Regions from separate parts of the Homo sapiens genome. Here region 2 is linked to region 1. The links come from fine-mapping of genetic effects on gene expression. A gene starts in region 1. The other region holds a variant in brackets. All regions are shown on one strand. Distances are between the middles of the regions.

Region 1 (5,377 bases):
TAACTGAAAAGGACCAGGGAAAACTTTTTGGAAGCAAGGAATTTTGTACAGCACCTTGAAGGATGGGTAGATCTTATTAGCCAAATGAAGGAAAGGCATTCCAGTCAAGGGAAAAGAATGGCTCAAGAAAAAGGGAGGGTAGAAATGCACAGAATGTGTTCCAGGATAAGCACACAGTATTCAGAGTAGTGAAAGAGAAGGCTGAGAAGGTAGAACAGTAACAAACTGTGAGGGACTCTGAACATGTGGCAGAAGCATATATTCATATTCAGCCCCCCCTTTTTTTTTGAGATGGAGTCTTGATCTGTCACCCGGGCTGGAGTGCAGTGGCGCGATCTCGGCTCACTGCAACCTCCGCCTCCCTGCCTCAGCCTCCTGAGTAGCTTGGATTACAGGCGTGTGCCACCACACTGGGCTAACTATTGTATTTTTAGTACAGACGGGGTTTCACCACGTTGGTCAGGCTGGTGTTGAACTCCTGACCTCGTGATCCGCCCACCTCGGCCTCCCAAAGTGCTGGGATTACAGGCGTGAGCCACCGTACCCGGCCTCAGCCTTTTATTTACACAATGGGGAACCTTGCTGGTATTTTTTCCCCACAAAGGAATAGCCAAGTTGGATCTCTGCTAGGAAGATAAACCAGCAGCAACATATAAGGCAGGAATGGGGAGAAAAGAAAAATACTACAAAAACTCCAGAAACAACTACTGAATAGGAAGCATTTTCTTGTCATCTCACAACACCAACGACATTGCTTTGCACATAAGAGAGGCCCAACAAACTTTAATTTCTTCCCTGGGAAGAAGACAGGAATTATGACGAGGCCAAAGAATCCTACAATAGTGAGAAAACCGGACTGTAATACATTTCTTCTCCACAGTAAAGATTCTATTCATATTTATGTAAGAAACTCAGAAAAGTCTTACTCTTCACTTATGTTTTGTATAAAGATGATTAAGAAGATATTGAAAATATAATGTGATTTATAAGATGATTTATAAAATAATGAAGCAAGATAGTTCCAACAGAAAGATTGAAATATTTCTGCGAAGCTACAACAAAACACAGCACCTAAAGGCATCTTTAAAGTAGAACTTGTCCCTACAAATGGAATCCAGAGACACAGCAGAGATTTAAACAGACACACAGAAGCAATACAGCATGTGCTTTGGGATCAGGCCATGATTTGAATCTCGGCACAGTGACTTATTAGTTATATGATCTTACGCTAAACTCTCAGTTGGTGTGGGCATAATGACACTTACCTAAAATGTGCTGTGATAATTACAGACATGATTTATAAAGCACCTGACCCAGCACCTGGCTCTGATACATAACAAAAGTACTCAACATAGTGCTGTAGTAATAACAGTAACTGTTATTATAAAATAGACATATTTAATATATATTCAAATAAATTTAGAATAACCTAAATCTATGTCAGATTTTCCATTTTAAAATTCCAGAGAACTAATTACAAATTTCTAAAGATAGATCTTAGAAATATTTTATGTTTATGAAAAGGTCATTTTTAAAACTACTATATCTTATCACTGTTTTAATTAGTCTAGTAAGCAAGTCTCAGATCTATATTAAAATATGTTTGTAACACCGAATATCTGATTTAAGAATGTAAGAAAATACAATTAAACTGCTTATCTGGCCAGAGAGGATTTTGGAGACATGCCTCTACAACAACATCACACAACTTTTTACTTTGAAACCGCTCCAATACTTAAATTATAAGTAATAGCCTGGGAAATAGCTTGCGAAAACGACTCCGTGGTAGTTGTAAAGAGAAGTAGGTGTGAGACCACCCCTAATCCCTGAGGCCCCCCTCTCCTTACACACACCATGTCAACCAACAGTGATCTACCCTTTTTAATGTTGTTTATTCACTTCTAAACAATCAACTAAAGCTGCTCCTGAATAGTGAGAACCCAATCAAAAGTGGTATTTATCAGAAGCAATCACACCGGCTATTATCAGGCCAGAAATCTTCGGTACACCCTTCTAAAGTGGCAGCTTGAAAACTCAGCTCTGTTGGTCCTGCTGACTTCCAACACACCCCACGAACGCTCCAATGCAAACCCGATAGAAAGGAAAGCCAAGAACCTACTTCGTTTAATTCTACGGTGTGGTTAAATTATGCATTAAGGCCAATAAAATTTCCATCCTTACTCGTTTTCTTTAACAGAGTTCAAATGCTACTAGTTCAAATGCTCTAACTGGTTACTATTAAAACAAGGAAATTACAGATTTTTTTTTATTCGAAGGTATTCTATAGATTTCAGGAAAGAGTTTTCTTAACGTTTTATGTTTACTTACTCTTTTTGCAGCAACTACCAATTTCTATGGTAAATCGACCAGTTGGTGCCCAAAAGTTCACTAATTTAAGCACGGTCAAGGCAGGTATTTGCCATAAACTGCCTGGTTTAGGTAGGACGCGCCCGACTCCAAGTGATTGCAATCAGCCTCGGAATGAATTCCACGGGGATTCGGGCTTTGATTCACAATTTGTTACTCACATTCAGAGTGGTAAGAAGTCGCTGGACTCTAGTATAGTTTTTATCTTAAAAAAAAAAAAAGACTCAGGAGTGAGGCTCTTAACGCTTTACTCTCATTTGAAGACCTTCCGACAAAAAAGCAGCAACTCCTCAAGCCGAGTTTCTGGTTTCTTGAGCATCGACGCCGCGTCCCCGCAGCGCCCACAGGTCCCGCAAGCCCCCAGCCCGCCTCCTGCCCAAAACAAAGGACGTCACCCCCAGACCTCTGGACACAGAAGCCCCACACGCACGCACACGCACCCCTCCCTGTCACCTCCCTCCGAGAGCCCCTCAAACGCCTCAGAACCCGCGTCGCGGAAGCGCTCACCTCCCGCGGGCGGGCGGGTCCCGGGTACGCGGTGAAGGTGCAGCGGCGGCCGCCTCGGGCGACAGACGGGTGGTCACGGCCCCTCCCCAAGGCAGGGGCACCGCAGGAGGCCGGCGCGCCCCCTGCTCCCGCCCCCGGCAGGTCACGTGGGCCAGAGCTCGTAGCGCCCCTCGCTTTCCCGGAGCGTCCCTCCGCCACCTAGGGGTCCCGCCGCTCCGCCGGTCTCAACACCGCCCTCCTCTGCGCCTGCGCCCCGGCTCCAGGCGCTCTCATTCAAACCGACAACGCCCCGCGTCTTTCGGACCGGCCAATGGCGGGCGGCGCAGCGGGGCGGGGCGGGGCGCTGGTTGCCCCCCTCTTCGCAGTCCTGGGGAACCGTCTGCGTGTCAAGGTGACAGGGGGCTTGGGAGCTTGGTCCTCCTCTGCTCCGGGACGTGTCCTCAACCCTCAGACTGAAGTTTCTTTCCTGTCCTCTTCTTTCTTCTTCAGACACTAAAAAGTAGAGCAATAAATATTGTCTAGAGTTGGCCGGGCGCTGTGACGGACGGCTATAATCCCAGCACTTTGGGAGGCCGAGGCGGGCGGATCACCTGAGGTCGGGAGTTCGAGACCAGCCTGACCAACATGGAGAAACCCCGTCTCTACTAAAAATACAAAATTAGCTGGGAGTGGTGGCGCATGCCTTTAATCCCAGCTACTCAGGAGGCTGAGGCAGGAGAATCGCTTGAATCCGGGAGGCGGAGGTTGCCGTGAGTGGAGATCGCACCATTGCACTCCAGCCTGGGCAACAAGAGCGAAATTCCATCTCAAAAACAAAACAAAACAAACAAACAAAAAACATCGTACAGAGTTCAGATAGAGGCTGGCCTAGATCCCTTTAAAAAAGGAGCGCAAAACCAGCGCCGCCTTTTTGGAAGACTTGGTGCTGCGCTACAGAATGAGTGTCCCAAGCGGCAGATGCGGGATATAGAAGAAAAAGAGGCCTCTGTGGAAGGAACAGAGGGACCGTGTGAAAGTCTGAACAAGGCAGCCTCAGTTCTTGAGGCTGTGCCCAACCCTGGCGTTTCCAGCTGTTGGAAAAGCAAACTTCTGTTGACTACAGAATCGCTGGTTCCCAGGAAAATTGGGTGGCAGTTTTACTCAGTTTCACTCAGTTTCAGCGCCTACATTCTAAAGACACTGGGAAGAATAAGTTTTATTTCCATTCACCTCTCCTCCATGTCAAGGTGACCCCAAAATAGTAGTCACCTTATAGTTTGTTCTTCACAAAATACCGGCCGGGCGCGGTGGTTCACATCTGTAATACCAGCAACTTTGGGAGGCCGAGGCGGGGGGATCACCTGAGTTGGAGACCAGCCTGGTCAAAATGGTGAAACCCCGTCTCTACTAAAAATACAAAAATTAGCCGTGCCTGGTGGTGGGCGCCTGCAATCCCAGCTATTCGGGAGGCTGAGGCAGGAGAATTGCTTGAACCCAGGAGGCGGAGGTTGCAGTGAGCCGAGATCGCGCCACTGCACTCCAGCCTCGGCGACAGAGCGAGACTCCGTCTCAAACAACAACAAAAACCAAAATACCAAGACCAGAGTCTCTCTGGGGTAAAGCATCTGATGAATTTACTTAGATTATTTTTCAAATAGATATTTCTCTTCTGAAATGAAGTTTAAATGTTTCTACAGGGTAAAGGCTATGTTAAAGAAAACTCCGGGTTCAGTATCTCCGTGAATGATGGCCATAACCAGTGATCCAAGCAACATTTCCCATTAGGTGCATGTTATGGCAAATTGCTTAAAGGAACAGCTTTATCATCAAACTAGACCTGGGTTTGAGTTCCAATTCTGCTACTTACTTGCTGATTGACCTTGAATGAGTTATCTTCTTTAGTCTTAGTTTCCCCACCTGTAAAACATAATAAAGCCTCTTCTAATAAGGGTTGCTATGATGCTTCTGTGAGGTAAGGTTGTTAAGTGGTTGACATAGGGCCTGACACATAGAAACTGCTCCATACTTGATACCTATTATCGTTACAACCATCTTTAATATCAGGTTCTTGTAAATAACAATGGAATTGGTTGGCTGTACTGTTTCAGAGGTAGGTATTAATTCCTTCTTAATTATAAATTCTTTTAAAGTATGGATACTGTGAAAGCCACAAAGGAAATTTTATATATATAGAGAGAGAGACAGGACCTCCCTCTGTCACCCAGGCTGGAGATCACTGCACAGCAGCCTCAACCTCCCAGGGCCAAGTGATCCTCCGATCTCACCCCTCCCCTACACCCCAGTAGCTGGGACCACAGGAGCTTGACACTATGTCTGGCTATTTTTATTTTTTCAGTAGAGAAAAGGTCTCACTATGTTGCCCAGGCTGGTCTTGAACTCCTGGGCTCAAAGGATCCTCCTGCCTTGGCCTCCCAAAGTGCTGAGATTATAGGCATGAGCCCCCTCACCCAGCCAGAAGTACAACATTACATTCAACATGTCCAGAATTATTTACCCCCTGCAA
Region 2 (5,377 bases), 42 kb after region 1:
TAAATCAATGCTGTATTCAAGAACTGTCATTATTAATTAGAATGCCAACCACATAGCCCAGAAGATGCCTGTGTGTTTATGTTTACTTAGAAAAGTGGAAGGTGAAATCTTCAAATTGGAGATGCTGCTTGAAGATGTTAAAGAGAAAATGGATGAAAGCAAATATACTTCAGCTCCTTCCCTTCCTGTGAGTTCTCCAGTTACCCTGGATGACTTGGCCTCCACCTTCTCTTCACTCTCAAATGAGGTAATACAGCAATGTACAGTCTAATTTTGTGCCAGGAAAAATGGTGTTTTTGCATTTATAGACTCCTAATTCATGGATTCACTGAATTCCATTTTTAATATCTCATGAAAATTTAACTTTCCAAAGTCCCATGAATTATATTATTTTAAATGGAACCAGCTTTTAAAGATTAGAAGCTATTTCAAGTGTTAATTTTTGAAACATCTTTATAGTTTAGGATGTAACAATGCTGTTTAAATCCATTAAACCACCGAAGAGCTATTTCTTCCAAATTAATAAGAAAATTTTTGTAGATCATGCCTGGAAGAAATAATTTTTTTTCTTCATAGTTTTGTACTCACCAGGCTGGAGTGTGGTAGCACGATCTCAGCTCACTGCAACCTTTGTCTCCCGGGCTCAAGTGATTCTCCTCCCTCAGCCTCCCAAGCAGCTGAGATTACAGGTGCATGCCACCACTGCCTGGCTAATTTTTTATATTTTTGGTAGAGATGGGGTTTCACCATGTTGGCCAGGCTGGTCTCAAACTCCTGACCTCAAGTGATCCGCCCGCTTGGCCTTCCAAAGTGTTGGGATTACAGGCATGAGCCACCTGAAAATAAAGAATAGCACACTCAGTGAAATAATTATTTCCCATGAATCCACTTCTGCATTTTCCTTCTCTCAAGTTAAATTCTTTTGGATTTCTACTTATGCAAGATTGGGAATTCAAATTAACCACCACTGTCTTTCTATACTTTTTGCCTTTGTAGCCTCAACTATCAGAACATTCAGACTAAAATCAAAATTCTGAGAAACAGAATCATTTAAATAAATACCTTAAATTGACTCTTTAGTTTCATACAGTATTTGAAGACACAGCCTGGGGCTGATATTCAAACTTGAATGAGGATTTTGTCAAAGCGAAGGACAAAGTGACAAAGATTATGTCAAGGTTAGCCCTTCCGAAGAAGTGTTTGCCTCCTCAAAGCACTTACTTGCCTGGCAAAATCTCACTCATTCAAGGCCCAGCTCTAGCGTCAGGTCATTTATGCATCCCTAGTCAGCCACCCTCCTCACCCCCAAGCCCCCCAATCCCCCGCACCTGGAGGAATTCTTGGCCCCGGCCTCTGTGTCCCCGCAGCACTGGGTCTCGTTTGTCTCTGTGACTCTGCACTCATCTTTGAATCCTGAATGTCCAGCTGAAAGCCCAGGAGAGTCGATGCTTCATAGAGGAAGCCCTGAGCCACCGTGGATGTAACAGCCCATCTCAAGGCACCCAAGCAGTTTCCAGGCTCACAGCGGCTGCCCTGCTAGTCTTGGACCTGCAGGAGTCACAAGTCTTTGTGAGGCCACCTCAGGGTTGGCCCTGCCCTCTACCTGGCAGCTCCCTGGGGTCTGGATCTGCTCTTCTTTACTTGGTCCCAAGTTTACAGCTACTGTTGTGAAATGATGAGAACTCTCTAAATAACTTTGTGGTAAGTGGTTCTGGAAAGAGTCTAGTGCTGGCATCCTTCATTCACTCAGCAGTATGTATTGCTATAGGCTAGCACTTTTCTAGGTATTGGGGATAAAACATGAACAACAAACAAATCACCTGCCCTCAAGATGCTTACATTTCTGTAAGAGAGACATATACTTAACAAATTAAGCCAGGTGCGGTGGCTCACGCCTGTAATTCCAGCACTTTGGGAGGCTGAGGCAGGCGGATCACGAGGTCAGGAGTTCGAGACCAGCCTGGCCAACATGGTGAAACCCCGTTTCTACTAAAGATACAAAAAATTAGCCGGGCGTGGTGGCGGGCGCCTGTAATCCCAGCTACTTGGGAGGCTGAGGCAGGAGAATCGCTTGAACCCGGGAGGCAGAGGTTGCAGTGAGCCGAGATTGCGCCATTGCACTCCAGTCTGGGTGACAGGGCAAGACTCCATCTCAAAAAAAAAAAAAAATTAAATTAACATATAATTATGAAATGTTAAAAAGCACAGTGCAGAAAATAATAATACATTCTGCGTGACTCTGAAGCCAGACTACCTGGGTTCACATACTGGCTCTGTCACTTATTAGTTTTGTGATCTTAGGAAAGTTATGCAACCTCTCTGTGCCTCAGTTCTCTCTTCTGTAAAATGCAGATAATAATATTTGCCTCACAGGGCTGTTATGATGTTTAAATGAGTTAATATAAGTAACGTACTGAAAATAGGGCCTGGCTCACAGTGAGTACATTACTCCTGGGTGTTAGCTATCATGACTATTAAGTAATGGGATATGACCAAAAGTAACTAAATGCAGAAGGTTTGAATTACTAAGGGAGAAGGTTTTTCAGAGAAGGTGAGATTTGGACTGAGTCTTGGAGGATGAGAAGACAGCTAGGTAAAGAGCTGGGGGAGACAGGGGTGGGGGGACGCCAGGCAGGATGTTATGGTGCCTTAGGGGTGCTGTAGGGATGCTGAACTGATTTTGAGTCACCTCCAGTGGGACTGTGGCTCTAATTCAAGTCTTTCTGTGTGGCTCCCCCAGATTCCCAAGGAGCACCCCGGCCACCCTTCTGGGCCTCGAGGCTCAGGTGGGAGTGAGGTAACAGGGACACCCCAAGGAGGGCCGCAGGAGGCCCCCAACGAGGAGCTCTGTGAGCTGGCCCCGCAGACGTGAGTCCTAGCCCTGGAGCCCCAGCAGACACAGGACACAGAAAGAGGCCCCTTCCTCATGCAGCCTCCAGGAAGGCCCATGAGGCTCCCACAGGAAAAGCAGTCTTGGACCAC[G/A]AGTTACAAAGCCTGGTAGCCTGGCTCCTCACCTGCCCCACCAGCAGGGCCTGGCCAGCCTCTGCAACCCTCTGGGCAGAGATCTGAGGGACGGGACAGCTGGGGCTGGGGGACGCGGGGAGAGGTGAAGGTCAAGTGGCCGCATGAGGCCCATAGCACTCTCTGCCTTAGGTTGCTCGCTCCCACCATCCCAGGGGTGATGCCAAGTGATTCCAAATAGTGGAGCTCCCAGGTAGCTCAAGAACTGATTCTAACATTCAAACTGCTTTTTTTTTTTTTAAATTAGTTACCTAAACGGTCATTATGGAGATGCAGCTGCCCAGAACAAGCCAGACCAAGTGGCCATGAGGCTGTCTTCTAACTCTGGGGTAATGTCCTGCAGCCGGGGCCTGGCTGGGTTCTTCTCATTGTTGGCTCTTTAACTAAAACCAGTGTTGCTGAATGTGACTGTGAAATTGGCATAATCAAGATCACTTACCTCTTCCTAATGGCATCCTGGGTGTCAGTGCTGGTGATGGCTGGTACTGCTGACGGTTTCCCACTTTCTGCACTCCTGAGAATCTCGGCAGGCGTACCTAGACCGGAGCTTCTCCAACTTCTCCGAGCCTATGAATCACCTGCAGATCTTGTTAAAATGCAGGCTCTGAATCAGTAAGTTTGGGGCGAGCCTGCAATTCTGCATTGCTAACAAGCCCCAGGTGATGCCAAAGCTGCTGGTTCTGGTCTGCGGACCACATTTTAAATTCTGAGGGTCTAGAGATTATTTCATTTCGAATGAATTGGAAATGCTGGGATTACCAACCCCGGGGTCTTAAATGATATTATATTATAATATTATAATAAGCAGTAAACAATGATATAATAATTATGTTGGCTCAGAGCTTTACAGTTTGCAAAGACTTTTTGCAGAGGAAGAGTAGTTTAGAAAGGTGATATTTGTTCAGGGTAAATGATAGGTGATGCCCGGGTCTCCAACTCAGGTGGAGGGGCACCTCCCTGCATTCTGCTAATGTAAATCTGCCTTAAATGTCAGTGGAGGAGTAACCCTGTAAGCTCAGCAATGATAAAATATAAAAATTAAAAAAAAAAAACCATGGGAAAAATGGATGAAAAAACCCTTTTTTTTTAAATTATAAAACTGATACATGCTTATTACAAGAGAAATGAGAAAATAAAGAAAAGTATAAAGAAGAAACTTCCACTGAGAGGAAAATCAATCTAATTTTTTTTTTTTGAGACAGTCTCGCTTTGTTGTCCAGGCTGGAGTGCAATGGTGCGATCCCAGCTCACTGCAACCTCTGCCTCCTGGGTTCAAGTGATTCTCCTGCCTCAGCCTCCTGAGTAGCTGGGATTACAGGCATGTGCCACCACGTGCAGCTAATTTTTGTATTTTTAGTAGAGAGGAGGTTTCACCACGTTGCCCACACTGGTCTAGAACTCCCGACCTCAGGTGATCCACCCACCTCAGCCTCCCAAAGTGCTGGGATTACAGGCATGAGCCACTGCGCCTGGCCCATTGCTAATATTTTAGTGTATATCCTTCCAGTCTTTTTTTCTCCTATATATACATTTTGGCCAAAATAGGATTTTACTATATATATTGTTTTATGCTTTTCATTTAATGTTATATTTTGAGCAGCTCTCCACATCACTTAGAATAAACTATCGCTTCATTTTTGATGACTGTACTATATTTCATTATACTAATGTACTCTGACACATTTAGACAATCTCTTATTGATGGAGATTTAGTTTTTTCCAGTTCTTTGATATCATAAACACTGCTTCAGGTAACATCATTTGACATGCAAACATTTGTAGTTGATCATTTCCTTAGAATAAAACCCTAGGATTGCAGTTAATGGTTCAAATGGTACATGCTGAAAATTCTGATAATCTGGCCTTTAGGAAGTCCATGGGGGTTTATAGGCTGAGGGCAGTGCGTGGGAATGTTGGTGTCCCCAGTTTGAGCCTACCCCAGACATTTTTTTCTTTTTCCAACTTTTGCCAAATGCATAAGTGAAAACTGATATCTCATTATTTTAATCTTGCTATTTTTGAAACTCAATCTATTTTCATATGTTTCTTGGCCACTCGCACCTCCTCCTTGACAATATTGATATTTTAAGTTGTTTACAAAACTGAAACCACCATCAATTAAAAAAAATGTAGATAGACAACTGAGAAAATATTAAGGGCAAATAATGTTCATTGTTGAGAACTTCATTATATCAAATGCTGTGACAAATTCCCCAAGGAGCAGAACTGTGGTTAAGAACACAAGCATACTGGCCGGGTGCAGTGGCTCGCGCCTGTAATCCCAGCACTTTGGTAGGCCAAGGCGGGTGGATCACTTGAGGTCAGGAGTTCGAGACCAGCCTGACCAACATGGTGA

Alleles and levels. Positions count from the first base shown, and alleles are read on the strand shown. Sizes are in standard deviations (SD) of each study's normalised expression.
For the expression in subcutaneous fat of the gene that starts at base 3,118 in region 1, G is the high allele of the variant in region 2 and A is the other (moderate effect, 0.44 SD a copy in GTEx).

The links.
Region 2: its variant is fine-mapped to the expression of GPSM2 in subcutaneous fat (GTEx, PIP 0.91).

Annotation. Positions count from the first base shown.
Region 1 is chr1:108,874,726-108,880,102 of GRCh38, reverse strand. GPSM2 (G protein signaling modulator 2) reads right to left here and starts at 3,118. Exons shown (of 15, transcript NM_013296.5): 1 at 2,875-3,118. RefSeq lists silencers at 2,723-2,792, 2,883-3,282 and an enhancer at 3,363-3,462.
Region 2 is chr1:108,832,420-108,837,796 of GRCh38, reverse strand. It overlaps AKNAD1 (AKNA domain containing 1), which reads left to right. Exons shown (of 16, transcript NM_152763.5): 7 at 91-247; 8 at 2,741-2,868; 9 at 3,269-3,350. LOC105378891 (a long non-coding RNA gene) reads right to left here. Exons shown (of 5, transcript XR_947687.3): 3 at 3,461-3,607; 4 at 1,329-1,548; 5 at 794-836. Among named protein-coding and RNA genes, the nearest start is that of AKNAD1, 22 kb to the left of the region's middle. The variant G/A (reference allele first, on the strand shown) is at 2,983.